5 linked regions of the Homo sapiens genome follow. The protein of the gene in region 1 purifies or fractionates together with the protein of each later gene. This does not show direct contact. Each region holds a gene or a part of one and is shown in the gene's direction. Other genes may lie near its edges.

The links.
Region 2: the proteins of QRFPR (region 1) and SLC38A1 fractionate together in Homo sapiens (co-fractionation; one large-scale study listed by BioGRID). This does not show direct contact.
Region 3: the proteins of QRFPR (region 1) and SLC15A4 fractionate together in Homo sapiens (co-fractionation; one large-scale study listed by BioGRID). This does not show direct contact.
Region 4: the proteins of QRFPR (region 1) and SMCHD1 fractionate together in Homo sapiens (co-fractionation; one large-scale study listed by BioGRID). This does not show direct contact.
Region 5: the proteins of QRFPR (region 1) and SLCO4A1 fractionate together in Homo sapiens (co-fractionation; one large-scale study listed by BioGRID). This does not show direct contact.

Annotation. Positions count from the first base shown.
Region 1 is NC_000004.12:121,369,877-121,375,443, reverse strand, and holds part of QRFPR (pyroglutamylated RF-amide peptide receptor), read left to right. Parts: intron 1-5,567. UniProt on the Homo sapiens protein: Receptor for the orexigenic neuropeptide QRFP. The activity of this receptor is mediated by G proteins that modulate adenylate cyclase activity and intracellular calcium levels.
Region 2 is NC_000012.12:46,264,177-46,270,284, reverse strand, and holds the start of SLC38A1 (sodium-coupled neutral amino acid symporter 1), read left to right. Parts: upstream 1-1,241; 5' UTR 1,242-1,759; exon of another isoform or gene 1,760-1,830; intron 1,831-2,297; exon of another isoform or gene 2,298-3,060; intron 3,061-3,768; exon of another isoform or gene 3,769-3,839; intron 3,840-6,108. UniProt on the Homo sapiens protein: Symporter that cotransports short-chain neutral amino acids and sodium ions from the extraccellular to the intracellular side of the cell membrane. The transport is elctrogenic, pH dependent and driven by the Na(+) electrochemical gradient.
Region 3 is NC_000012.12:128,810,129-128,815,695, reverse strand, and holds part of SLC15A4 (solute carrier family 15 member 4), read left to right. Parts: exon of another isoform or gene 1-318; intron 319-625; coding exon 626-921; intron 922-5,567. UniProt on the Homo sapiens protein: Proton-coupled amino-acid transporter that mediates the transmembrane transport of L-histidine and some di- and tripeptides from inside the lysosome to the cytosol, and plays a key role in innate immune response.
Region 4 is NC_000018.10:2,692,512-2,698,078, forward strand, and holds part of SMCHD1 (structural maintenance of chromosomes flexible hinge domain-containing protein 1), read left to right. Parts: intron 1-2,015; coding exon 2,016-2,182; intron 2,183-4,520; coding exon 4,521-4,611; intron 4,612-5,319; coding exon 5,320-5,530; intron 5,531-5,567. UniProt on the Homo sapiens protein: Non-canonical member of the structural maintenance of chromosomes (SMC) protein family that plays a key role in epigenetic silencing by regulating chromatin architecture.
Region 5 is NC_000020.11:62,640,551-62,646,614, forward strand, and holds the start of SLCO4A1 (solute carrier organic anion transporter family member 4A1), read left to right. Parts: upstream 1-1,952; 5' UTR 1,953-2,003; intron 2,004-6,064. UniProt on the Homo sapiens protein: Organic anion antiporter with apparent broad substrate specificity.

The DNA of each region.
Region 1 (5,567 bases):
TGCAGGTATTGAGAAAGCTGTGTTTCTGTGGAAAAGCCAAGTTTCCATTAGACTAAGAAGGGGGAGGAAGCATTCAAAGAAGTAATGGAGAATGCAGGGCATTTTGTAGATGTCAGGGTTCCAGAGCACACAGTGCAAGTATTGAGGAGTAGGGAGCTTGAATCAGATTAGGGGATGTTCACAGTCTGATGGGTTTGAGTCCAAAGTTGAGGGATAGGCTGGGAGAGAATGGGACTCGTGGTAGCTGAGGTAAATGAAAACTTAAGGCATAGGAATGTTAATTCTGAACACTTCCCAGGAGGAGACAGAAAATCAGTTCTAATGCTAGCCTGCTTTATGACTCTAAGCATTAAGAAGATGAAATGGGGAGTGTTTGGGGTGTGCCTGGAGTAGTGGCCTTGCTAGGATCCTGCTGGGTTCTGTATCCACTTTCATCCTGCTGTGGATTCCGGCACAGCCAGAGGGAGGATGGTCTCCTCAGGTGCACACACAGCTCTGCAGCACTCCCCCAAATCCTGCCGTGGGCAGTGAAAAGAATTTTCTAGCAGTGGCTGGCAAATTGACTAAAAGCAATTCCAAAAAAAAGGAGTTTGAAATATATTCTAAGTAATGGCAGCATCGTTGGGGGAAGTACACATTCATGCACTTTTACTATCTTTGAAGAGTATTAGGGTAAGAAAACACAGAAAATTAATTTTCTCAGCAGCTGATATGAGAATTCCTCTTAGAGTGGTAATGCTCAATCTTGGCAACATGTAGTAAATCATCTGGGAGTTTTTTAAAACACAGATGCCTGGTTCCTACCCCTGGAGATTCTGATTTAATTGGTCTGATTATAATTGGTATGGAGTTTTCAAAAGTTCCCAAAGTTAGAAAAGTTATAATTTGCAGCCAAAGTTGAAAGCCACTGATGTAGTGTAAATGCTGACAGCACCAGGAGTTCCCCAAGTTAGAAAAGTTATAATTTGCAGCCAAGATTTAAAATCATTGATGTAGTGTAAATGCTGACAGCTCCAGGACTCAGGCTGATATGAAGATTAAAAGAAATAATAGATGTAAACACTTTTTAAAAAAGTATAGTGCCTACCCCATGTACCAGCTCAATATAGCTATTATATATTTAAAAAATAGCAATGGCAGTCAGAATGCTTAGAAAATGCAAAAGTAGATTATATTAACTGGAGTCCAACAAGGAGCTCAGAGGCAATTCTTCCGTTTTCTGCAGCCTATTGCGTCTTTACTAAAGCCCTTAACGTTTTTAGAGTCTTTCAAGATGAATTTGGAAAGGATTCAAAAATGGTGAAAAGATTGGAATATAAGACATACAAAGAAATATAAGAAGAATTATTCTCTTGCCTGGAGAATAGAACTTTAGTTATAAATTAGCACACCTCACCACAAAGGTTTTTCAGTCTATTTTGCCCAGGGCCACAGCGGATGTGGGCGGGTAACAGAATGGTAGTAGGCGAAGCTCCAAGCTTCATTATAACAGCTCCTGTCTCTCTTTTTAAGAATTAGAATTTTGCATGACTTTATATGAAAAATGAAAGGATTTAACTGGAAGGAAAGGAGGGAGAGAAAGAAAGCACTCACTGTACACAACATGAAATGTTAGGGTGTGTTTTTAGAGATTGAGAGCTGATACATTGTGAAATGAATTAAAGGAGGTTGTTGAACTTCATTTAGTGAAAAGATCTTAATTTTGAGGGCCAATTCAGAACAGAGAGCTTAACCTGGAACTTCTTCGGTCCCATTTTATTATTCAATCAGTGACTAGAAAACATCAGTTACATGTGTTATATAATTTTTTTCTATGATATTTCAGAAATTTTAGAGTTCTTGGGGAAATTTACATATGGTAAGATTGGTGTAAAATCAACAGTATTGTGGGGCTTAAAAAGTCAACAGAAATGATAAAAGCTATTGATGAAGAATAGTCTTTTTAAAATAAGGAAGTATTAAAAAAGATGTAAATTAAACAGAGGTCCAACAGCAACAGTAGTTTGGAAATAAAGTCAGGAATTATGCTGTGGACAGCCTCTGGTTGATCTTTCCTAGAATCAATTACGTGCACACTTTGAGAAGAAAAGATGCTGTAGGTCACTAAATTTTTTTGGTAGGTGAGAGAGTGGCAGTAACAGCAACAGCATTTATGTAAAAGATTCTCTCTACTTAGGACAAGAACAGTTTACATTTAAAATAATGACAAGGATTTAGCAGTAAGAAAGTTTTAAATATTTCACTGTGCACTTAGGAGGCATAAAATGAATTCCCTTTTAGTTTGCTTTTCTAAAACATAACTATTCTTTGATAAGTTGTTGATTTATTAGGATTCTTGTTTGTGGGAAGAGAAGCCCAACTTAAATTACCTTAAGAAAAAAAAGGGAATATTCTACCTCTGCAACTGAAAAGGTCAGAGTTAGGGCTGGTTTTAGGCATAACTGGATTAAGGTCTTCAACAGTGATCATCCTCCCCCTCGGCGGCCAGCTCCACTTCCCTCTGTGTTGTGGTTTCATTCTAGAGCTGTCTTTTGCCCAAGTGTGAAAGATGACCCCAGGAGCTATAAGCTTACATTTTCTTTAAAACTCCCTGTCTCAAACCAAGTGTCCATCGATGGACAAATGGATATACAAAATATGCTGTGTATACACACAGTGGAATATCACTCAGGCATGAAAGGGAATGAAGTTCTGATACTTACTACAACATGGATGAACTTTGAAAGCATTATGCTCAGTTAAATAAGCCAGACACAAGAGGACAAATGTTGTGTGATTCTACTTACATGAACTATTTAGAATAAGCAAAGTCATAGAGACAGAAAAGGTACTAATGTTACCAGGGGCTATGGGGAGGGCAGAGTGGGGAGTTATTGCTTAATGCTTAGATTTCTGTTTGGGGTTATGAAAAAGTTTTTGAAACAGATAGTGGTGTTCATTGCACGACACTGTGAATGTGATTAATGCCACTGAATCATACACTTAAAAATGGCTAAAATCATAAATTTTATGTTAGATATATTCTACCACAATAAAAAATTCTAGAACAAAAAATAAAACTTTTTATCTCAGGAAATGAGAGAGAATACTTCCCGGTAGTTGCAGAAAATTCTGGAAGGATTCTAGCCAGTTTGGCCTTGCTGTCTTACCCATAGAACTAATCACGCACCTCAGGGAGCGCCATCGTCACTCCTATTCAAACACCCAGAGATACCCCCTACAGCAGGAAGAAAAGCCTATTGAGGAGCCACTGTGAGGCAGTTTCTTATCCCTGTCTTGTGGGAGACTGACCTTCTCTTATCTATCTCCCGTTTGGTTTCCGTTGAGTGTAAGACTTCCCTCCTTTCTCCCCACCTTGCTCCCACTTAAGGTTCAGCTACAGTCTTTTGTGTAAGTCTGTACAATTTCTTGGCCGTGGTTTAAGGGTTGCTCCTCCCCAGCAGGGCAACCCATTGCCCATACTGTCAGTCATCTTGCTCTTCAAGGCTCAGTGTCTTCCTGTGTTGATCTTGCCTTTGGCATCTGTGCAAGTAATAAACTTCCTGAATCCATTGATGCTCATTGTCTCCTTACTAACTGAATCAATGGAAGTGTGACAAGCTAACAACTGTAGTAGTGACACTTGGGACCCTGTTAGCCACTAAGCCCCTTGGAAAGGCTTGACTGCTTAGCATGAAGTTCTTCCATAGGAAGGTACTCAGGGTAGATATGTTTAGCAGAGTTGGCCATTTATGTCTAGTGGAGTGAGTCAACTTACAGGGACTAAAGCTCCCCGATCATATGTCTTCCCATAAGGCCAAGCCCTGCACTAGGTTTCTCAGGACCAAGCTGAACCAGAGTTCTGAGTGGCTCTTCCTTGTCTGCCTTTCCTGGTCTGGGATGGAGTGCTGGGATCTCCCTCTGCTGCTCCCATCTCATTTATTGATATATACTCCCCAGTGGACCAACTTCCAGGCTGCCAATTCCTTCTAGTAGTGGACATATGCCTTCTCCCTCTGCTAAGGAATTATTGAAAGGTCAGTGAACGGGGTTCTAGAAGTTGATATTGGCAGTTCCCTCTCAGTCTGTGCCTTTAAGAAAAATTCAGCAGAAGCTATACTATTTGTTTCATTTTATGCCTTAAAACTAAAGATTCTTAAGGATGAATTCCGAAGTAATTAAGTAAGTGCTTATTGTTTTTATCTGTCTTTGCAAAACTAAATTAGTCCTACCTGTAGCTTGGTTTTGGAGAAACACATTTACTGTCATATCAGAGAGATTGTAGGCTATTCAGGGTAATAGAAATCTTAAAAGACAGCATGTTCCTACATCCTGGGAGAAATAGAAGGATAGAGAAACAGTTAGATGCTGTGAAAACAAACATGGATTGTGGAATCAAACAATATTGGGTTCTAATCCTGTTCCATCCTTTATTAGTGTTTGTATTAACTAGATTATAAGTTACATGGCCTGGCATTAAAGCTTCCCCTATTAGAAGACCAAGGAGAGAAGTTATAAAATAATGTTTGATGCTGCCCCCCAGTGGTTGATGTGGTGGCAGAAAATATGACAAAGATACAGGTTTTAGATCAAGCTTTATTTTCACAAAAATATTAATGCATATAATGCATATCTAGTTCTTCTTACTTCCCATTTGATTTCTCTATGAAGCATATAGTATTTACATATTTTCATTTATGCAATCTCATTTTAAAGTCCCCTTTAATACATGTATGAAAATATGTTAACGTTTTAAAAAAATTTCCTGTGGGATTGAGATGCATTTAAAATCTGTAAACGTCGGGTAGTGTTGCCTAGTGAGTCCTGGAGACCTTTGAAGTCACTGCCACTCTCACCATGGCTTGGGTCCAGATGCGCCACAGCCTCTTGGGGATGTAGGCCCTTGGAATCTTTTTAGTGCCGGACTCCCGGCCACAGGCAGTCCCGCGGCAGCAGGATAGCAGAACCTCTGGATGGACTCTTCCTGGGAAGTTTTGCTAATTTGCAGCAGCTGGACCATGTTCCTCATTAACATCCATCTGTCAGCTTAGTCGTCACATCATTTCACCGTGGTGGCAGGGATTCTATATAGAAAAAACACCTGGATCTCAGCCTTTCAATGGCTTCAAGACAACCAGAAGTGCCTGCTCTTGAGGCTAGTGGGCCTCTAGGCAAGATGTCCCTGCCCTTCAGGATATACCGCCGGGCACTCAGCTATGATGATACCCTCAAGGACCCTGCACCCATGACTCCTCCTCCATCAGACATGGGCAGCATCCCTTGGAAGCCAGTGATTTCAGAGCACAAGTATCAGCACCTCACCAAGGTGGAGGAAGGAGAGGCCAGTCTACCCTCCCCTGCCAGTCCCTGTCATCGGCCATTGACAGTGTGGACAAGCTCCCAGTGGTGAAGGCTAAAGCTACCCATGTCGTCATGAATTATGTGATCACAAAACAGACCCAGGAAAGCTTTCAGCATTTTGGGCAACAGGCAGGGCTGAGAGATCCTGGCTACACACCCACAAGGGTGTCACCACTCAGAAGACCAAGTACCTTAGAGTAGCAGAAGCACTCCACAAACTAAAGCTG
Region 2 (6,108 bases), on another chromosome or scaffold:
TGCTTTTCCAGTGGTGATGAAAAAGCAAAATTCACCCAAATACAATGACTACTGTCTACTTGAAACGCTCCAGGTAGTTAATTTTTGAATTATGATTCACCTTCCCTTTCCTGTTTTGATGAACCATGAACAGGAGACTGAACCTTCCCTATCAATAAAAAGCTCGCGTTTCCACCCTGCAAATTCGCGCTATGACAGTCTAATTGGCTGAGGCGCAGGTGGGATTTCCTGTCGCCATTTTAAGACACAACTCCTCTGCAAGCAAGTGCCCAGCCAGTGAAAGGGGGCTGTGTCTGAAACAAAGAGTAAGCGGGAAAAAAGGGAACCAGGCCCAGTTGCCCCTGCTCCCCTCCATGCCGCTCCCTCGTCCCCCGGACTTGGAGCGCCCCAGCTCCGTTAACCTGGACGCACCAGGTCCTTCGGTCGGGACCACGTGGGGTCTCCAGGCCCTCCAAGAGCTGGCCCCCGGCTCTTTGCGCCTAGGCCGGTGCTTTCTCGGTGCTCAGCAAATCCTTCTGGTTCACCTCACACCCAGTCCCCAAAGCAGAGCTCCACAGGGCAGATCTCAGGAAGGGCTGACCAGGTCTGCGGGTGCTGGATCCGGAAGAGGGGAGGTGCCTCCCGCTTCAGGTTAGGGACAAAGGGTTTTTAAAGGTGCCCGAGCTCCCCGCCGCCCCTGCCACTTCGGTCCCCTTCCCGCCAACCCGGGCCATCTGCAGGCTGTGCCCAGGGCCAGCCCTCCGCTCCAACGCTGCCCGTAGTCCCAGGCGCTGCCCGCGGCTCTCCGGGCTGCGCTCGGACCTGCCACTCCCGCGGCCATCCTCATGCTGCGCCCTTCCCACAATGCAACTCCCTCGCTCCTTCGGCCCCGGCGGGGCTCTGGCGTACCCAAAATGCAGGCCCCAGCGGAACGCACAGCCCTCCTGTCCTCCGCCGGTGCCCCTTTAGCCGCCCCACCCCCATCCCTAAGGGCTCTCATTCTCCAGCTGCAGCCGCAGCTGGGTTCCGAACACGCCGCCGGGCCCCGGGAGGGAGAGGGGCAGGTGCCAGGGCGGCGCGCAGCCTCTGCTCCCGGTGCCAGCTTCAGTGCGCCGGGCACACGCGCGCCCCGCAACCCCTCCCTCACCCTTTCCCCGTTGCTCAATCTCCGCCAGCCGCGGTCGCTGCATCGTCAGAGAGCTGCAAGAGGGAGGCAGCAAGGTGCGGCCGCCAGCAGTGACACCATGTGACCGGCACGGCTCACTGACACGCAGCTTTGGTTAAAGAGCGGGCGCACAGGAGGGGAGGAGACCGCGCGCGGGACGGGGAGGAATGGCCTGTCCGCGTTAAACCATCACAAGCCATGGTTGCGGAAGGGCCACGCGTCCCCCAGTAGGAGAATGACTCCGATTCGTGACCCTCAGCGCCGGTGCATGTCGATGTAAGTGCGAGGCCGGCGAGCAGAGTGTGAGTGGGGGTTGGTGGTGAGGGGAGATTCTGATGCAATCGGCCCGGAAAGGAGGAGAGCCAGGCGAGCGCGGACTGGGGCGGCCACGCCACTCCGCCAGAAGGTCGCCAGGAGCCTCCGCCCTTCACCTTCCTCCGAAATCCGCCAGGCCACGCCAAGCTCCCTGCCCAACCCTTACTGACGGGGGCCACATTTTCCCGGCCTCCGCAGCCAGACCTTGACACAAAGGACATCAAACTGCCGAGGGTAAAAACCCCGGAAGGGCGGACACCTCCACATCGCCTTTTGCCACCTTTCCCTTTATTTCCGGAGGTAAGGTGATTATCCGTTCCCGGGGAGGGCTGGGCGAGCGGCAAGGGGAGATTTAGATGTCGGAGGAGGAGGTAACGTAGAAATCATCTCTGCGGGCGTGAAAGCAGAGAGAGCTCGGCTGTGCCCGATGCTTTCGGATGTTGCTTTTAGGAGAGGAAAAGTCCAGGTCTCCTGTGCTTCCCGAACGCACGCGGCAGCGGGAGGAAGCGCCAGGGCCCCCGAGTTCACCTTTGCGTGGGCTGTGGCTTACTTTTTGGTTTGTTTTCCTGTGACTTTGGTGTGTTTTCCTGTGGCTGTGGCAGAGTGTGGTACCAGATCTGGTTCCATTTTTACGAGAGCCAGGAACCACGCACGTCTGGAGGGAGAGCGCAGCTGACCCGAGGGCGCGACCGTGTTCTGGGAGTGTTTGAATCCCCGGCCTTTGGTGAAAATTTCCTGTGTCCGCAAGGCCCAGAGGAGATCGTGTGATGTCCGGGGGGTGCTGCGTGCGGCCGGCTGGGTAGCGGCCGCGGACCACCACTAAACCGGGGCATGTTTGCCGTCCTTCCTGGTGCTCTGCCCCTCTGTAACGCGGGGAAGTAGGAGGGCGCGGGGAGAAATTACTAAAGGATGCTTGCAGTGACTCACTGTCCTTTCCTGCCCTGAAGAGGATTTTCTAAAATGCAGAGGGTGGCAGGGGACAGAGGTAGTGTTTTTTCGAGAGCCGGGATGTGCTGGAGCCAGCGAACAAAAGGCCACCTCTTGCGCGGTCTTGGGCGCAGACTGCTCTCGCTTCCAGTCCCACCTCCTCCCCAACCCCCGGCACCTAGTTCGCGTCCCTAAACGTTGCCGCAGAGGCCTTTAAACGCGTGGGTCGGTGCCGGGAGGAGAGCGCATCTTCGCCCTTGTGCGAGCCCCTTGCCCCCTAAATTATCCACCTCCTGGCGCATGGGGCTCCCCAGCACCCACTGGGACCCAGTAGGTTACCCGGCTGCCTGGGCACCGTTTGCCTGCCAAATCGCCCGCCTGAGGTTTGTGCTGAACTGTAGTTAGAGAAGGCACAAGTGCATATGGCAGCAAAAGGAATTTCGCGGTACCCGCGTCACGCCGCTCCCAGTGCCTTTCACAGGCTGCCTTGGGCTGGGGAAGGTGGTGCTACAATTCAGAGTCCTTTGTCTTGCTCTGCGGCGCGGACCCGGGGTTTGTACAAACCCTCGTTCTCTGTTAGAAACCTAACTGCCGCCAGGATCACGTACTTTCTCGGACGAATCCGCGGTGATGTGTGTAGCAAAAGTGAAAAAAGACGCCTCTGCTAGAAAACGGTATTTATTTGCGTTTGGAAGGGGTTTTGACCTCTCTGCAGTGGGTTTTTACATTTTTCAATATAAGGGGGAGGAGGAAAATAAATTTATGGTTTGCAGAATGCAGGGCCCAGCGAGGGTGTAATTTGTCACCTTGATAAAAGAAACTGTGCAGCAACTCGTGCTTTTTCTGACGTCAGAAGGACAACGGAAATAAAACCTGAGCTCGGTGCATGGCTGGCCTCGTTGTCAAATGTCTCATGCCAATTTGGTACTCCCGAAATCTTGCAAAACAGCCAATTCCGGGGTACTGACCTGGTGTGGACCCCCTGGATTTTGGTTCGACCCCAGCCTCAAAATGGCCTTTCTCTTGAGAGTCACTCGATTTCTCAGTATGTCGCTGTAAGCAATTGGAAACTGGAATAGTTTGGTTTGAGGTCTTAATCTTGAGGTTTATTCGCTTTTTAAAAAAATGTGGCCAATAAACATTTTCTACAGAGGGCTTACTGTGCGACTGGCAGCAACTAACAAGATTTGTTTCACCTTCTATGAAGCTTCCGTTCTCAGGGGGAAATAGACTATATAAATGTAGGCATATACATTTCAGGTATTCTTAGTGCAATGAAGAAATAAAACAGGATCATGTGATGGGGGAGGATGCTTGAAATAGAGTGACTCACCGGGAGGGGCGGTGTGAGGGTATAACATTTGTCCTCAGACCCGAATGATGAAAAGGGATCAGCTATTTCCATAATTGAGGGAAGAAGGCCAGCGGAAGGAACAGGAAGAAGGAACAGCAAGTACTTATTGCACTCTTCTTTGACTGTAATATAATTGAACAGATAGATGAATAGATTTTAAAGGTGTTTTGGAGCTTTAAACCTATATGTATGTTGTTTATGTATATTTTTTATGATGCTTCATGAATTAAGGCCATTTAATGAAAGGAGCACCATGTTTCTGATATCTGACTATTGCTACTCTTTTCTTTACTCTGGGTGATGCTTGTGGACAAAAACCGATTTTACTCATTGTTCCTCTAATGTCCAGCACATAGTACCTGCTTAATAAATACTTGTTGGATCGAGACCTTGAGACCTTGATCAGGCCATCTTGTTCATCTCTTTGTGATATTATTGGCCATCCCTTCCGTTCTATATCTCATCTGTTCCCCTTCTCCTAAGTTTGAAAATGAGAGTCTTTTTCTTCTCTGCTTCTCCTTCTCGTACTGCCCTTCCCACTTTGAGCAGTGACCAGGCCCTTGAAAATACCCCTCACACTTGTCCTCTTGTCTCCATTTCCACTGCCCAAGTTCAGGTCCCTGTCACCTTACCTAGACTTGGAGACATATGAAACAGATATAGAGGTGCCTTGAACAACCTAGGGGCAGTGGGAGTGGGCGGTGGAGAAAAATGCAAGCACAACATATGGTTAAGAGTGAAACAGCCAGTTACTGAGGTGGAACAGCTTTCCTGTTGGTCTCTCCTCCATATCAAGTTATGCTCCCCTAATTAAATCTCCATTCTTTCATGAGGTTTATATTTCTAAAATTCAGTTCACATTTTGTTAAAGGACCTTGCTTTTAAAAACCTCTGAGGGTTTCCATTGCACACAAATACAGTCTAAATTCCTTAGCCATACACTTAGGACCCTTCACAATCTGCCTTCTCATCTCTTTCCAATTTTTTCTCTTGATATTTTCTTTCTCACAGTTCACCCTATTCCCTCCCTATCACTTTTCTGCTTCAATATCTGTGTGGATTGGATTCCAGTCCAGAATGCCTACTGAAATCCTGTGTACTTGTGATGGCCTATCCCTGATGCCACTTTTCCACCTCTTGGGAGAAGTGTTCACTGATCACCTCACTGGCATTTTCATAAGTATTTGTTTATCCTTCACATTTTGGACTGTTGTTACTCCAGGTGATGGAAGGTGGTGAATAGGGGCTTAGGCTCTGAGTCAAATATAAATATCAGGCCTCAGCTTACTCACCCAGGAATCTTGGGCAAGGTGTTTGGCATCTCTAAGCCTCAGTTTTTTCTTTTGCTAAATGGGAATGATGATGCTGGTGGTAGTGTTGGTGGTACCCACTTTACTGAGTGATGGTAAAGATTTAATGAAGATAATGAATGTGAAGTATTTGGTATAGTGTTAGCATTCCATATGTATTGAATTAAACATATCTACCAGAGGAGGGAGAGAAAGTTGATCAGTAAAGTTCCCTTTACCTCTGAAATTCTGTGACTATGTAATCTTTTAAAAATACTTTTCTGAAAATATATCTTGATGGAAACTACCTGGATCTTTTTAGTCTCTGGGAGAATATACATCTATGAAAGGTGGTGAGGAGGTAGGAGAAGTATGTGCACAGAAGTACTTTGAAGAATGTGTGACAGACTTCGAAAAAGACATCTTGTATGCAAAGGCACACAGAGTAATATAATGGACTGTGGAGACTCAGAAGCCAGAGGTTGGAAGGGAGGATGCCAGATAAAAAGCTACAGATTGGGTACAATGTGTACTACTCAGATGACAAGTGCACTAAAGTCTCAGATTTCATCACTTTCAATTCATTTATATAACCACCAAAAATCACTGATACCCCAAAATCTATTGAAATAAAAAAATTTTAAGTAAAATTAAAAGATTAACTTCAATAACCTAAAAAAAGACACTGACCCTAGATTTAAAATAAGATTTTAAATTTAAAAATATTGTTGTACTTATTTCTGAAAATTGATCACATATTTGTTTTCTAGTGATAACCTTACTAATAACAGAGGAGTTCCCCTAACCATGTTACCTTCCCAATCACTGAATTCCTCTACTATTAGTAAGTAACTCTGTTTCAAGTGAGGTTACAATGTGTCTTTGGCAATAACTAGCTGGGTACCCTTGAGCAACTCATTTCACATTTTTATGCCTCATTTTCTCATCTGTCCAATGCTAATAATAGTATCAGTGCTGCGTACCTCAGAGTTGTGAAGATACAATGAGAGCAGAGCTGAGAAAGTCCTTGAACAAGTTTAAAAAAACTATTCAAGATGATAGTCATCTGGCATTAAGCA
Region 3 (5,567 bases), on another chromosome or scaffold:
TTTGTTTGTTTGTTTGAGATGGAGTTTCACTCTTGTCAACCAGGTACAGTGGCACAGTCTCGGTTCACTGCAACCTCCATGTCCTGGATTCAAGCGATTCTCCTGCCTCAGCCTCCCAAGTAGCTGGGATTACAGGTGCCCACCACCATGCCTGGCTAATTTTTGTATTTTTAGTAGAGACGGTGTTTCACCATGTTGGCCAGGCTGGTCTCGAACTCCATACCTCAAGTGATCCACACGCCTCAGCCTCCCAAAGTGCTAGGATTATAGGCGTGAGCCACCATGCCCAGCGGACTCTGTTTTTAAAGAGCATTCCAGGTAATTCCAAGGCAAGTGGTTCAGGTACTTAGAAAATTCTACAGCAGAATATACTTGGAAAAACTCTCTAGCATTTGTTGGAATTTAGTGTAATTAAGTGAAACCTACCTAGCAACTGTAGTAATTAAAAGCGTGGGGTGTGCTTTTTGTTGAGATCCGTGAATGTTTCTGTAAACACAATTTTGATTGTGTTGCGCTTCTTAAAGGTTGTGATGACAACGGTAATTTTAACCACTTGACCGTATATGGTTTTCATCCTTGAAGACTGTCATATATTTTCAAGTGTCTTTCCTCCCTGTTATTTTAGGTTAAAGATCGAGGTCCGGAAGCCACTAGGAGATTTTTTAATTGGTTTTATTGGAGCATTAACCTGGGAGCGATCCTGTCGTTAGGTGGCATTGCCTATATTCAGCAGAACGTCAGCTTTGTCACTGGTTATGCGATCCCCACTGTCTGCGTCGGCCTTGCTTTTGTGGTCTTCCTCTGTGGCCAGAGCGTTTTCATCACCAAGCCTCCTGATGGCAGTGCCTTCACCGACATGTTCAAGATACTGACGTATTCCTGCTGTTCCCAGAAGCGAAGTGGAGAGCGCCAGAGTAATGGGTAAGCACTTAGTTCTCATCTTGGGCTGTTTGAAAGGACTTTATCGATCTCTTTATTAACATCCTAGCTTCGGTTTGTTGTGTGCTTATTGTGTGCTGGGCCTGGGCTGAGTGGTTTACATGTCTTCTCTCCTTTAACACTGCATTTCCCCAAGGAGGCGGGTGCGGTCTTATTATCCCATCTTAAAGACAGGCCAGTGGCCTGATTCCAGAGCTCATGCTTTAACCCCACGTTGCACTTTCTCTCACTGCTAGTGTAGACGGAAGCTCCTTTGGTGCCAGATTATAAAGGTAGAAATTTGTGGAGGACATCGAGGAGACAGAAGACATGCTTTATACATGTTTCTTTTTATTTTAAAAAGCTTTGAAATACATTTGAATGAAAAACTAAGCAGTTGCTTATGCTGTCAGTACCTGTCTCTGCTCTTTAAAAAGTAAGCCACTGCCTCTTACCTAAAGGTCAGCATGGGCTCCATCATACAGCGGTCAGGTCCATCATACGGCGGTCAGGTCCATCATACAGCGGTCAGGTCCATCATACGGCGGTCAGGTCCATCATACGGCGGTCAGGTCCATCATACGGCGGTCAGGTCTGTAACTCTTGACAGGAAGGTGCAGTAGCAGAATGGCGAGATGCACTGAGGGTAACCAGATGATCTCATGGGACTTACCCAGTGTTAGCACCAAAGTCCCATGAACTGAGGTGTTAAAACAGAAAGGCCTGTGTCCTCAGAACCCCTCCAAGTCACTGGCCAACTATGACTCATGTTTGGTGATGTTGGATGCCAGTTAATAAAGTCCAGAACTTAAGCCCAAGAAGAGAGCTCAGAAGTGTTTGTGTTACTCTTTATTGAGGAATAATTTACAGATAGTAAAATTTACCCCTTATATCTGTACAGTTTTGTGAATTATGACAAACTTACTCAGGTTGTGTAACCACCAGTGCAGTCAAGGCATAGATTATTTCCATCCTTCCAGAGAAGTCTCTGGGACCTTTTGTAGTCAGTCCCCTCATGGAATGTTTTGATCAACGTAGAAATGCCTGGAGGCTGCTGGGTGGGAGGCTGATCACTCAGCCATCAGAGCGTCCTGTGTCTCTGAGCCGTGCACCCCATTGTGGCATGGCACTGGTTGCTGGACATTCTTCTGCGGGCCCACTCACACATCTGCCTGCCTGCGGCCTGTCTGTGTTTGTCTTACTCATGCTCTTGGAGCCGTAGCGAATGTGTCTAATATTCCTTCCACGTGGTAGATTGAAACTTCACCAAAATAGCCCTGTGCGCCTACTTTGCTCCTGAACATCTCTGATTTCTCCGGCTGTCCCTGTGTGGAGTTCTGGCAGATCTCACCAGTCTACATGACCTATTGGAAATGCCAGTGGGTCATTGTGGCATTCAGACACATAATTCAAAACTGCAAATGGTGGGACCGCACTAAAGAATTTTTAGTAATTAAAGTACAGGAGGCTGAGGTGGGAGGATCACTTCAGCCCAGGAGGTCAGGTCAAGGCTTCAGTGAGCCATGGTTGCACCACTACACTGTAGCCTGGGTGACAAAGTGAGACCCTGTCTCAAAAAAAAAAAAAAAAAATATAGCCCCATCTTAGCTGACACTAGTCTTTTGCCAGGGCCTTATTTGATCAGACAAAAGCAGTGTTTCGGATCCTAGAGGTCTTTTTCAGGAACAACCCTTAAAGTTTTAGTATCCGTGTGGGTGGTAGCCCATAGACATTTCTGCAAGAGAACAGCATTGTTCTGTGGACATATTTGGGTTTTAAAGCACAAATGGCAGTGTGGAGAGGGTTTGGAGTTACTTTTACTTAGGAAGCCGATTTCCTCTTAGGATAGTCTTTGAAAGTCTTCTTGGGCAAAAATAAGGGAAAAAAAAGCAGGGGCTAGCTTGCAGAAAAGTTGATGGTCTGAGGAATTCTCAGATTCTGCTGTTTGTATGAACTGGCTCTGTAACCTTGGGCAGGTTACTGATCTTGCGAAGCCCAGCTTTCCTTTTTTTACAGCGGAGATGGATTCATCTCATGGGCTCACGGTGGGGCCTGAGCACAGTGATGTGTGCAAGGCCCTCAGCAGGATGCCAGGTACATGATAAGGGCCCTGTCAGTGGTGACCACTGTGACGAGGGTGCCTTAAAAAAGGTGGGCCTCCAGGCTGGGCGTGGTGGCTCAAGCCCGTAATCCCAGCACTTTGGGAGGCCGAGGCGGGCGGATCACGAGGTCAGGAGATCGAGACCATCCTGGCGAATACGTGAAACCCCGTCTACTAAAAATACAAAAAATTAGCCGGGCGTGGTGGCGGGTGCCTGTAGTGCCAGTTACATGGGGGGCTGAGGCAGGAGAATGGCGTGAACCCGGGAGGCGGAGCTTGCAGTGAGCCGCGATCACACCACTGCACTCCAGCCTGGAAGGTAGCGAGACTCCGTCTCAAAAACGAAAAAATAAAATAAAAAAAAAAAGTTGGGCCTCCAAAGCCTGAGGAAGCATGACATACCCAACATTTTTACAGTTGTGACACTTAATTTCATCTGGCCCAATCTCAGTTTCAATCCAGGTTGATCTGTGTTTTGAAGATAATATAGTGCTTGATATTAAATGAGAAATGAAGGCGTATTTGTTCAACTCATCAGACCAGAGTAGAAATGGTTCTACAGCTTTTTGAGATACATACTTCTTTGGGAATCCGTGAGAACCAGTGGACTCTTTTCCTGGAGAATACACACACCTACATGCGGCCTTCACAGAGACTCAGGCACAGGCGTCCTGAAACTGGAGCTCGTCAACTTGTGTGGGAGGAGCAGAGGGCTCTTGTGGGTGTTCGGGTGTCACTTGTGACCGTGGCTTCGTGTTGGACCCTTGTATGTTGCAAAATAGTGCACCTAACAATATGTGTAACCCAGTAAAGCTTCAGATGCATGTTGATTTCACAGCTTTTAAATATTTTAATTACATAAAGCGAAAGTAATATAACCAGTAACCTGTGTGAATGATTCTTTGTGTGAAAATGGGTTTATTTGTTATTTAAATGTTTTTAGTGAAAGGTATTTAATATGATGTGGTAAACCACTGATAGTATCTGCATTAGGTACAAAAGGACTTTAATTTCCTTTTTGAAAAAAAGTAGTACTTGAAGAAGTTAATGTTTTCGAGTGAAAGTATTTATAATGTCTTTGGAATTTATTTTCACTTTTGGGTGTTTTTGTTTTTGATTATTTTCCCCCACTAGACTAAGTCCGTAAGGACAGGAGCCCTCCCCTTTAGCCCCCAGGTAGAGCAATGCAGGGCCTACAGCAGGTACTCGATCAGTATTTGTTGAATCGAACTTAGTTTTCTTGTCCAAAATTTGGCTAAAATATTCAGTTATAGTTTTCAGCGCTTCTATTTTTCCCCACTCTGAATGTCCAGACTTAAAATGTTGACTTTATAAGATAAAGAATTTAAAATACTGGCACCATAGTAAAATGGGACATGAGTTAATAAACTAGAAGGCTGACAGGTGCCATTTCTGTTGGCTTCCCACAGTTAAACACAATCTTATTGGGAATTAACTCTCTCCTGGTACTTCTGGCTTTAGAGAATAGTGTGCACTTTGTTTTCCCATTTTACCCCTGAGATCCTTGGAGCCCGTTCCCCATTAGAGTGTTTTGGAGCTGGGAGAGAGTGCGGAGCTGTCTAGTGGGGCCTGTTCATTTTCTAAATAATGAAGCAGGCCCAGAGCAAGGAAGTGAAACTCGTTAGTACAAGAGCTGGGGATGCCAGGTCCATGTTCCTGCTGTGACCGGCAGATGTGAGGGCAGTGGCAGGGAGTGGAGGGACAGTGGTGTCCTGCAGGGGTCAGGGCCTCAGGCTGTAAAGCCAAGACTGCCTGGGTCCAAGTCCTGGCCATACCTCAGGCACCCTTCACACTCTCTGTGCCCCGGCATCTTCCTCTGTGCAATAGGGCCCTGAAGAGTTTTAACACCACATGGTTAATGAGGGAGCACATGGGACGCGGTGCACTGGGCACTCCCTGTTTCCTACTGTCAGGGGACAGAGCCAGGGACATCCTCCTCTCATCACCACCAGCACCGCCCTCCCCCAACAGCTCTTCCTTAATCCAAGAGCTGACAGCTTTCCTCCGAGAATAGAAGCCTGCCTCAGTCCTGCCAGTGACTCAGTTTAAACCAGCAGGGTTTTATTAACAGCATGGGTATTGGCTGTCAGGTCTTGATGTTTGATAAATTAGCTGATTAAAAATTCACACAATCCAGTGCATTTTTTCATATGCTATCCAGTGGCATAGCTAGTGTCCCTCCCAGTGTCACGTAGAGCTGCAGACTCTCCCCACACGGAGATTGCCGAGCTGGCAGCTGCGCTGGGGCTCTCAGCTCAGCCGTGGTTCACACTGTCATCACAGATCTTCCAGCCACGCCAAAATTACAGTAGCCCAGTTTCACTTTGACTAGAAAGTCCCTTTGTCAGCTGTTTCAGTACATTCTGTGACATTTAGAAATAATTTAGGTAGCTGTGTTGGGTGTGTACAATTAGTAAGTGATGGAATGAGTTGAAGCAGATTCAATACAGTGAGCTGGTTTCTTACCTCCAAACTTAATTTGTGACCAAATAATTGATTGCTGGGAGGGGAAGAAAACTAATTCCTT
Region 4 (5,567 bases), on another chromosome or scaffold:
TAATCATTCAGCACATTTAATTTTGTCTTTTATATTATTTTCTTTCATCTATCCTCTCTTCCACCCACTTTCCACTGCTCTAATTCAGCCATCCCGCTTCATCTTTTATCATGTTTATCGTATGTCCTAAAACTACCTTGTTTCCTTTATGCTCTTGAATTCATGTTCTCATTTGTCTGGAATGTTATTATTCAGTCATCTGCTGGGTGACTGTCACCCTCGTTTTACCTCTGTAGCTCTTGGTTCATATCTTCATACATAATAGCATATTGTTTTGTAATCATTTGTTTTTTCATCTCCTACCAGATGGAATTTGTAGAGCACAAAGGCACTGTCTTATTTATCTTGAACCTATCTTTCTCAGGCCCAAGTTGAGGCATAGGACTTACAGAAGATGCTTGATAAATATTTGGATAATGAATTTGCATCGTTAGTAAATTCAGACTAATCTCCTGACTCAAAGTATATGAAATGTTACTTGTATATATTGTAGCTGTGATATTAGCAATTAGTGTATAGAGATGCATTATAATGGTTTTGAAGGGGTATGGTCTTAAGGATTTATTGTTTTTTAAATCAGAAATTTTAGAATTTGATAGACAAATTCTGAAAGAGCTGTAACACTTTTTAATTAAGCAAGTAATCATACATACTTATTTTTAAAAATCAACTTGATTTCCTAGATAGAATAGTTTAGTCTGTTTTTATTTCCACAGTTTTATAATGTATATAGCAACATACACAGTAGATATAGTCTCCTATCACTTAAGGACAGGGATGCATTCTGAGAAATGTGTCATTAGGTTATTTTGTTGCTATGTGAACATCATAGAGTGTACTTATACAAACTTAGATGGCATAGCCTGCTACACACCTAGGCTATATGGTATAGGGTACTGCTCCTAGTCTACAAATTTGTACAGCTTGTTACCCCAGGCAGTTGTAACAGAATGGTAAATATTTGTGTAGCTAAACATAGAAAAGGTACACTAATTTTACAATACTGTATCATCTTATGGGACCACTGCAGTCAATTGTTGACAAAAATGTTATGTGACATATGACTGTATATGAATACACACACAAACGCGCATGCGTGCATACCATGTTTTTTGTTTGTTTGTTTGTTTGTTTGTTTGTTTTTTGAGACATGCTTGTTGCCCAGGCTGGAGTGCAGTGGCGCGATCTTGGCTCACTGCAACCTCAGCCTCCCGGGCTCAAGCGATTCTCCTGCCTCAGCCTCCCTAGTAGCTGGGTTTATAGGCGTGTACCACCACGCCTGGCTACTTTTGTATTTTAAGTAGAGATGGGGTTTCGGCTTGTTGGCCAGGCTGATCTTAAACTCCTGACCTCAGGTGATCTGCCCGCCTCAACCTCCCAAAGTGCTGGGATTACGGGAGTGAGCTACCACGCCCGGCCTGCAATTTTTTAAAACATAGATTCATACTACAGATGGAGAAGTTTGTAATTTTATCCTCAAATTCCCCTACTAACTCCCTTCCATAAGTTTTAGATATTCTCTGAAAGTGGGTTGGTGTCCAGGATGATTTTACTTTTAAGCACTATGTGTTTGGGCTTAGCTAGCTGGGTCCAGCCTGCCCTGTAGTTTTCTTGAACATGGAGGGCTGGGCATTGGTCCTGACCAAGTTAAGTGGTAGGTCTCCCAAGCAAGCGTTCATTCTACCCTAGGGGTAAGTGTCCTCAATTTTTTAAGGCATTTTAAAACTCAGTATTTGTCTTTACCTTTTCGTTTATGATTCTAAAATCGGTTTAGCATTATAAGATAGGGTGCTCTTTATGCATGCTAGTTTAGCAGTCTGTGTGAAAGTTCCCTTGTCTTCACAGTGTTGTCACATACTCAGCCAGTTTGTTGTATTGGGCCAGTTTCCTCCAAAGCTTTTCTGAAACCTATTTGTGAAACTCCAAGTAAATCACATTAAAATTTGATGCAATAGCTATTTGTATAATTATAATTTAGATGATTTAATCTGTTGTATTTCTGTTCACTCTTGTAGCCCTCTGATTCTGTTCACATTACAAATGATGATGAAAGATTTCTACATCATCTTATCATAGAGGAGAAGGAAAAAGATAGCTTTACTGCTGTGGTTATCACAGGGGTACAACCAGAACACATACAGTACTTGAAAAATTATTTCCACCTTTGGACACGACAGTTAGCGTAAGTAATTATATTTGGCTTAGGAAATGTTGCTACTTAACTTTTTTAAGGCAGAAAACATTACAGATATATTGAAGCCTCTTTGGTATCCGTTTTGCTCCTGTCTCATTTTCTTCCCTTTAGTATTATCCAGTACTCTGATATTGGTGTTAAAACAGCTCTCTATTCATTTATTCTGTAAATATTTATAGATCACCTCTAGTGTACTGAGCATTATTTGAGGCACAGGATTTTGACAATATTATAAAATTAAAAAAGAACTTCACAGTTTGTCAGATTGAGCACTATATCACTTCCATGACCCCGTTTTGTGCTTCTTTTCCATAGGACCTGTCGTAATCTTCCATACCATATATATTTATTTTTGTTGTTAAATTCACTGCTGTATCTCCAATGTCTTCTAGAAGAATACTTGCTACATGGTAGATGCTCAAATGTTTATCAAGTGAATGAATGCATCAAGCCTATTAAAATAAAAAATATACGTACATATGTGCCTATATGACATTAGTACTGAAAATAATCATTGTGTTTTTATTCCAGTAACACTTGTAGGGACTCTATATTCCATTAGACCAAATCAGAGGAATAGTTATTTAATGGCTCTAAAAAAAAATTTTTTTTTTTTTTTTTGAGACGGAGTTTCACTCTTGTTGCCCAGGCTGGAGTGCAATGGCGCACTCTTGGCTCACTGCAACCACCACCTCCTGGGTTCAAGTGATTCTCCTGCCTCAGCCTCCCGAGTAGCTGGGATTACAGGCGCGTGCCACCACACTCAACTAATTTTTGTATTTTTAGTAGAGACAGGTTTTTGCCGTGTTGGCCAGGCTGGTCTTGAACTCCTGACCTCAGGTGATCCACCCACCTCAGCCTCCCAAAGTACTGGGATTACAGGCGTGAGCCATCGCGCCCGGCCTAAAATTTTTTTTTTATAGCTATGTGATACATACGATTTACTGTATTGTTTCCCTAATTTGCATTAGTATGAATTACTGAGACTTGCAAAATGGGTACATCTGCTCAAAATTCATATTTTAAAAATGTATCTTTTTACATTTACCCAAAAGGCTATTGTTCTTGAGAGTCTCAATTTTATACGTAATTATACGCTAAGAGAATTTTAAAATTTTTTTATGGGAAAATAAATTTGGTTTTAGGAATACCTTTTTTCTTGTTGAAGTTGTTTATTATCCCTGTTACCCAAGGTATTTAAGTAGGACTTTGCAGTTTTCTTCAAGTACATATTTTATTAGCTATTTTATAGTTTATTGAAGGAACTCAGTGTACATTAACACATAATTTAAATATACTCTTGCTCTAATGAAGGATTATGAAGAAATATTGCAAATTTCTATTTCACGAATAAAGACGTGGTATTTTATAATCCTGAACAATGTTACCAAAATATAATCTTTTTTAACCTTTTCTGAAAAAATAAAGAGGTGTTATTTCCAAAATGTTGGTTTTCAGTGAGATGGTGTCAAACTTACTAGTTTTGTTTTTGGAATCTTAGGGTAAGATTGTCTCAGTGCTATAGGAGAGGAGAGATGAATGTTCTAGAACAGGGGTCCCCAACGCCCCGGTCGTGAACTGGTACCCATCTGTGGCCTTTTAGGAACCCGGCCCCACAGTGAGTGGTGGGCCCGAGTGAGCATTACCACCTGGCTCCGCCTCCTGTCAGATCACTGGCAGCACTAGATTTCTCATAGGAGCACGAACCCTAATGTGAACTGTGCATGTGAGATATTGCGTGCTCCTTATGAGACTCTAGTGCTTGTCGATCTGAGGTGGAACATTTTCATCCCAAATCACCCCCCTTCAACTCCCATCTCTGGAAAAATTGTCTTCCATGAAACTGGTTTTGGTGCCAAAAAGGTTGGGGACTGCTGTTCTGGAATGGTATTCTCTTATTGAGATTAGATACCTAATCCAGTTTACCACCGATAATTGAGTCCTTTCTGGAACGTACCTGGTAAGTAGAATTATAGACTCTTGCTGTCTAGTTTATATTTATTTGATGAATTATTCCTCTTGGAAGTGGTGTATGTGGTCTTTGAAGTTGGAAAGGTCTGGGTTGAAGCCCACGGCTCCCTAACTCTATTCTGTGATGTCAGATAACTTACATACACTTCTTGCACCCCAGGTTCTATATCTGTAAAATGAGATGCAGTAATACCTGCATCTCAATTGTTTTTACCATTAAATGGAATATGTATTTTAAAATGCTTAATAAAGTGCTTGATACCTAGTAAATAGTGTTAAAATATTTTGATAGAAGATTACATTAACTATAATTTTATGTGAATTAAAAGTATAAAATTATTCTTCTCTATTTTAGGCATATTTATCACTACTATATTCATGGCCCAAAAGGAAATGAAATACGAACATCAAAAGAAGTTGAACCTTTCAACAATATTGATATTGAAGTAAGAGAAAAATCCATCTTAAAATAATAAAAATTATGAGATATTTGTTCCAGTTCCAAATGACTCAGGATAATAAAAAACACTTGATAATTAGACAACTTCTCTCTCCTTGTTTTTTACCAAACTACTTTCATTGTTTGATATCCAACTAAAGAGATTATTCCTAGATGTATTTTTCTCAAACCTTTATTTACTGTAGGCTTGGTTTATCTTTTTTTGTCTCTCTTCTGTGGAGCTATGCATTGTTACTGAACATCAATCATCTCTTGAAGCATGGAGGAAAAGGGAGATAATGTAGCTTTCCTTTTGTTTGTAGAAGTTATATCGTGGTGACAAGGTTTAGCAGCACAGAGCATTTGAGTATTGGATTCTCAATCCTCTAACCCACACGTTAGAATTTCACATACGATGTTGTCCCACTTCCTACCTCTAGCAAGAAACCTCGAATTAAATGTACTCATGACTTTTCTGTCCTTCAGCTCTGATTTGCTGTTTCTTTGCTTACTTTATATTTTTTAGTAGTATGTTCCTTATTGAGATGCTACTTAAAGCTGTTTAACTCATATGTAAATATATGTATTTCATTAAGCCAGATTGTTACTTGTACAAATAAACATAATTTTTACTTATTCTGTTGTTGAATCATAGCTGAGAACAAAAGTAAAGTTACCATAGAATTTAATTATTTTTGTTTCCTTTTTATTTTAGATTTCTATGTTTGAAAAAGGGAAGGTACCTAAGATTGTCAACCTAAGGGAAATACAAGACGACATGCAGACGTTGTATGTAAACACAGCAGCTGATAGTTTTGAATTCAAAGCTCATGTTGAAGGAGATGGTGTAGTGGAAGGGATTATCCGTTATCATCCATTCTTATATGATAGAGAAACTTACCCTGATGATCCATGCTTTCCATCAAGTATGTTAATCTGTTATCTTAGTTATAAAATATGAAG
Region 5 (6,064 bases), on another chromosome or scaffold:
CAATGGTGCCTATGCAGGAATCCCAAAGAATGCCTGGTGGGGTCTGAGGCGGGTCTCAGGCCGGGAGCCCTCCACAGGCAGCAATATTTGGCTAGAATTTAATGCCATTTTGTTTCTTTTTATCTATTTTTATGGTGACCTCTTTGTGGTAATTGACACTGACTTTTTAAAAAATAAACTTACCCTTTTAATCAAATGTGTGAATTGTTTAAAGGAAAAACATTGTGTAAATAATGTTTTCAGGGGGTAGAATCCAGACGTGAGTTTTGGAAACAGAGTCCAGTCCTGCTTCTGACATTTGAATTGCTTCTCCAGCATCATCACCAGAAGATGGGCTACCTGTGCTCACAAGCCTCCTGTAACACGGAGCTCACCACCTCTCAAAGGCACCTTCTGTCAGGTCTGCCTGGAAATGCTGCTCCCGCAGACTCCGCACCTGAGGCCAGGTCTGCAGCGAAGCTCATCCACACCTGAGGCCAGGTCTGCAGCGAAGCTCAGCCCCCTTCCTTCACAGGAGAAATACTTCTGGGTGTGCACCTTCCACTCCTGGCAGGGCCGTGAGCCCCTGTGGCAGTGCCTCACCCTCTGGGAGGGACCCTCTCCATCTGGGAACAATGTGGGTACTTTTTTCTCTTAAAGGGCAGTGTCAGGAATGAAAGCAGATACCCAAAAGCAGTGGGTCTCGTGGCCTCGTGTCTGCTTCCAGAAGTGGAGGGCGGCCTGGGACGGCGGGAGCCCTGAGGACACCACCGGGGGGGTCCCGGGACCTGATACGAGTGGGCAGGAGCCCCAAGCCCTGGAGGAAGGAAAACCATTTCATAAATAACTGCATGGGGTTGTGGGCCTTTTCTCACAAGCCGCAGCACCTCCTTCGTCTCTCCACGGTGAACCCGCCCGCCACGCTATGCCACCAGGCCAGGTCCTGCAGCACCGCCTCCGTGGCTAGGACTTCCTCACCAGCCTGGGGCCGTGAGGTGGTCATTTCCCCCCTTACCTGACTTATCTCAGGATTCACACACACACACTTGACTTTCGGAAACTTCTTTTAAATTAATTTCACTGACACTAAAAGGGAAGCTTTGTGGAGTGTGATTGTGGTTACCTGTTAATACTTGGCAACAATTATGAGCCCTGATATGAGCCAACTTCTTCCGTCTTATCCCCTTTGAGGACGCTCTGTTATCGCCCCCATTTTGCAAACGAGGAAACTGAGGCTCGGAGGCCTGGAGCAATGTGTTCCAGGACAGACGGCAGGAAGCCGGGGTAGGAATTCCAACAGGGAGTTCCCTCTGTGGAAGGGAACGTGGCTGGCACCTCCCTGCCTTCCACCCTCAGAGCTAGTGTGAAAAAGAAGACGGGGTTATGGAAAAGGCAACGGGCTGGAGATTCCCCGGATTCCCAGGCTAGGGCGCCGGTCTCACTGTGCGCGCAGGTGGGGCGCGTGCCAGAACAGGGCCTGGGGGTCAGGCCGAGACCGGCGGGCACCTTCACCAGGGCCGCCCGTGGCGTTCCCCCAGCCCCTCTGCCGCGGGCCCCACGTGGCCCCGACCCTGCGGCAGCCTTTCGGAAGGGCGGAGCTGAAAAACGGCCGCTTGGCTCCACTCGGCCCCACAGCGCCCAGGAGCGAATCCCGAGTCCGTTCGGAACCGCCTCGCCGCGTGGCCTGGGGCGGCGTCGCCACCGCGCGTTCTCGGCCTCCCGGCTGCGGCAGCGATGCCGGTCCTTGGAGCTGGAGCGGGGAGTCCAGGAGGCGGCAGCGCTCCGGAGAGAGACGCCCTGGTCCCCCGCCGCGCGTTCCCGCCTCTGTGCCCTGGGGGGGAGGAGGGGGCGGTCGCCGCTGCCATTGGCCGTGGGGGGTGAGGCGGGCCCCGCGCAGGAAACCCCGCCCCTCCCTCTGCGGCGGGGGCGGCCCCAGCGGATGAATGAAGCGGCGCGTGGCTGCCGGGGAGGCCAGAGCGTGGAGCGCTGCGCGGCGCGGCGGCCGGGCCCTCGAGACGGGGACGGTGAGTGCGCGGGGAGCGGGGAGCTGGCGCGGGTGCACAGGGCCCGACCTGCTGGCGTAGGAGCGCGGCAGGTGCCGCCATCGTGGGCAGGGGCTGGAGCGCCGGGGGGATGCGCGCGGGGGCGGGAGGCCTGGGCACCGGCCGAGCGCCCCGAGCCTCTCCGCGGGGGAGGGCAGGACCGAGCGGAATCGGAGGCCAAATTCGCCGCTTCCCGCCGCCGGCTGCGCAGGTAGGAGCTCCCGAGTCGCCCGCAGGAGGACCGAGGCGAAGGGGCCCCACGCTGCAGCGGGTGCCGGGGGGAAGCGGGTGAGCAGGGGCTGCGGCCCTGGCAGGGACTGTCGGAGTGGCCGGGGCAGGTGACCTGGGCAGGTGGCCCGGAGCGCGCGCAGGCGCAGGCCCCACAGATCCAGCTGGGGACGAACGCGCCTCCGCGGAGCTCCAGAGTTGCGGAGTCACCCACCTGCGGCGGCCGCTGCTGCCGAGTCAAGGAGGAAACCTTCATGCACGGAAGTTTCTCGGGGGCGGCCGGGCTTTGTTCGCGCCAGAGGCGCTCGAGACATCTCCGGGAGGGGAGCGCGGGCGGAGCGCACAGGGCTAGTTTCCAGCAGCGGCGGCGCCCCTTTCCCTGCCCCACCACGCGACGTCCTGGCCGTGGCTTGGGGGGACCCGGGCGCCCTCCAGGTGCAGGCAGAGGGTCGGGTGCCCTCGCGTTGCTGTTGGGCTCCCCTGACCAGGGAGGATGGAAAGGAAGGAGCAGGCAGGCTTAGCTGCCCTAGACCGGCCCTAGACCGGGAACCTGGAAGCAGATCTGACTTCCACTTCCAAGGGAGAAACCGCCTCCCGCACTGGCGCCCCGAGGGGAGAGAGAAGCCCAGCTAGGTTTCCGCGTGGTCCGCGTGGTTGGTGAACCCTCAGGCTGGGGGGTGCCCCGCTTGGCGTGCAAGGCCCTCTTTGGAGCTGCCGTGGGACCTGGCTATGCGTCCTGTTTCTGTCTGGAGGCGGCTGGAACGCGGTAGTTTTCCACATCCATGCAACCAGCTTGTCAGCTGCTGCTCCTCAGCTGTGGTTTTTGGAACTTGGGTTACCTCCATCTAATCAGAAACTGGCTCTGCAGAGCCCGGTGTCAGCGACGTTTTCATTCCCAGCAGCGGGAGCAAATGGATCTCAGAGGACAGCTCCTTGGCCTTAGCCGGCTCCGCTTGTGAATCTGGTAATAATGACAAGGACAGTGACAGCAGGGGTTAGGTGTTGAGTGCTGGAATGTGCCGGGCATGGTACCCCTGCTTTGAGCATCGTCTCATTCAGTCCCTAGCAACCCCACGAGGTGGCCATTATCACTCCCACTTTATAGATGAGTAAACTGAGGCACCAAGAGGTTAAGTGATTGACTCTAGGCCACACAGCTTGTAAGTGCTGAAGAGGTCTGACTCCAGGTTTGTCTGATCCAGGCTTGGGCTCCTGTTTTACGACTCTGTTCTTAAAGAGGCAAAAGGCGACTGCAGGGTCAGGCCGGAGACCCAGAACAGCGTCCCAAGAGCTGGGCCTGCGGTTACTGGGCCAGAGTGTCTGTTCTGGGTTGTCAGTGATCGCAGGACACCAGTAGGATGTTGCTCGGGCCGAGACCACACAGCCCGACTTCCCTCTGTGCTGCTGGAGGGAGCCAGGGCAGAGGCCGGCCACTCGGTGAGACCTGGACGCTGACCACAGCCAGGCTGCCCTGACCGCCCTCAGCAGGCTGTGTCCTGCCTTCCTGCTGGGCAAGGTCAGCAGGTGGTGCCTGGAAAATTCTTCATGAGGGAGCTTCCCTCCCGAGTGGCCGTGACCTAATCTGTAGCTCACTGGGTGTGGCCCCTAAAGCAGGTGCTGGGCAAGTCCCTCCCATGGTGGAGAGCTGGCTGGGCACGTGGCAGGCAGGGCAGGCTGGGCCAGGTGAAGGGTGGCCAGGTGGATGGACATGCTCTCCTTGCTAGACTAAGCCCAGAGAGGCCGGCTCTCCTCGGGGCTCTGATGGGCCCCTTGGCTTGACCAAGCCCCATTGCAGTTTTGGCTCCAGGTCGGTCTGACTTCCAAATGGCAAAATTTTTCTCAGCCCATTGTAGAATGAAAAGTTAACTCATCGAGCTTAGTATTGTGCCTACAAGGTCTTCGATCCGGATGTCTCCATGAGTGTTAATCCATTTCTGGGGTGGGTACTGCTGAGCCAATATACATTCCTGGCTTCCTGGACTCGTCCACTGGAACGTGTTGGGTCCTGGTGCTCTCCCCAGCAGATGGTTGTAGGTGGTCAGAGATGAGCCACAGAAAAGCCAACGTGCAGCCTGGTGCTGGGGGCAGGAGGGAGCAGGGCCCTTGGAGCTCTGGGAGAGAGCCACGCCAGGCCAGCCCTCCTGCTTCCTCAAGCGGGCTGTGGACAGAGGCCACAAAACGTTCCCTCACGAGCCACATGACTGCCTCATTTGCAAGTGGCAAGGTGCACACTGTTGGCTTTTGGACAAGGACATGGGACAGTCCTCAGACCTTGCTGTTGCCTTCGTTCTGGGACATGGACCACTGTCTGGCCCCCCAGTGAGCTTGCTGAGTGTCAGCTGACTTCAGGCAGGATCTGGGTCTTGCCCACTTGTTGGAATGGGCACGTGGGGATTGCACCCCTTGAACAGGGAGGGAGGTGCCAGTAACTCACATGCTAGGTTAACAGGTTCTGGGTGACTCTGAGCCTTGGCCCTGCCAGGGGTGTGAGGAGGAAACTGGCCCTGCTGCTGGGACAACAGACTCTGGGCGTGTCCTCCTGTGGGCCTCTGCAGAGGAAGCAGACTGGGACTACAAAGAACAACCTGGTCCTGGGGACCCTGCTGCCTTCTCTGGCCCCTGCTGGCCCTTCAGGCTACGGTGAGGGTGAGGGTGCGGGTGAGGATGAGGGTGCGGGTGAGGACCCACCCACACCCGCACCCTCACCCTCATCCTCACCCGCAGCCTCACCCTCAGTCCTCAGACACTGGGGTCTCCGGCTGTCTCCAACCCTTCAGTTCTTTTCAGTAGCCTCCTTCCCACCAGCATCACACAGAATTAGACCCTGGGACTACATTTCTGGCGGAAGGTGACTGCTTTTTCAAACCACGTGCCTTCTGCAGAAGCCGCTCCCCACGTAGCCCAAGCGTAGGGTGAGACTTGGCACCAGTGGCTGGGGTCGCTTTTGGGTGCCAGAGAGCCCAGATTCCTCTCCCTCCCACGCGCAGCCAGGCCCTTCCTGCCCACGGACCTTGCCTTTTCTTGGTGGTTTTTCTAATCTGGCAAGCCTTGGGGGGCACCTGAGGCATTGCCCCTCTGGCCCAAGCCGCAGGGAGAGCTTGCGATGCTTTGGGTGGCGTGTGTCGTCCAGTCTGCCCCAGGCTCACTTGGGGCCCTTGCATTTGCCACTGGACTCTGCCTTTCGGGAGGCGCTGTGGACCTGAGATTTGGACCCATGGGCCTAGGAGGCCACCTGGGAGGAGAGTGGCCCAGCTGTGCCAGGCAGGTTCCTCATCTGGACAGAACCTGCTCCCTGCAGCCTCTCAAGCTCCCCGAGGGCCCTTCTGGGTCTTGTCTCTCCCACACATTGGGGGTCAGGTTTGAGCCCCTTTGCTGGCGGACCTCTGAGCTGCCCGCCCTTCCCTCCCACCACCCGCCCTGCCTCCTGTGGTGCACAGGGCTCTCCTGGAGGAGGGAGGTCCTGGGCATCCCCTGCCTCCTCACCTTCACCCTCAGGAGTCCCAGAGCCCTGGCTGCTCTGCACAGCAGGCTGGGAAGCAGGCCCTGTGCCCAAGGACTAGCCTGAGAACTGGGGAGGTCCTTTCCTCTTCCCCAGAGGACAAAGAGAGCTGTGAACACCACGGGTCTGTAAAGGGGTCCCCCCACATGCAGGAAAACATGAGTTGTGGCATCACTTACGCCTTCACTCACCAGTAGCCGAGGCACAGCGGGGGTCCTGAGCATGGGCAGGGCAAGCCACTTCCACCCCAGCCATGGAAGGAGGCTGAGGAGGCCAGGGCAGCAGTGGGGACCTGCGGCAGGCAGGGCCTGCAGGG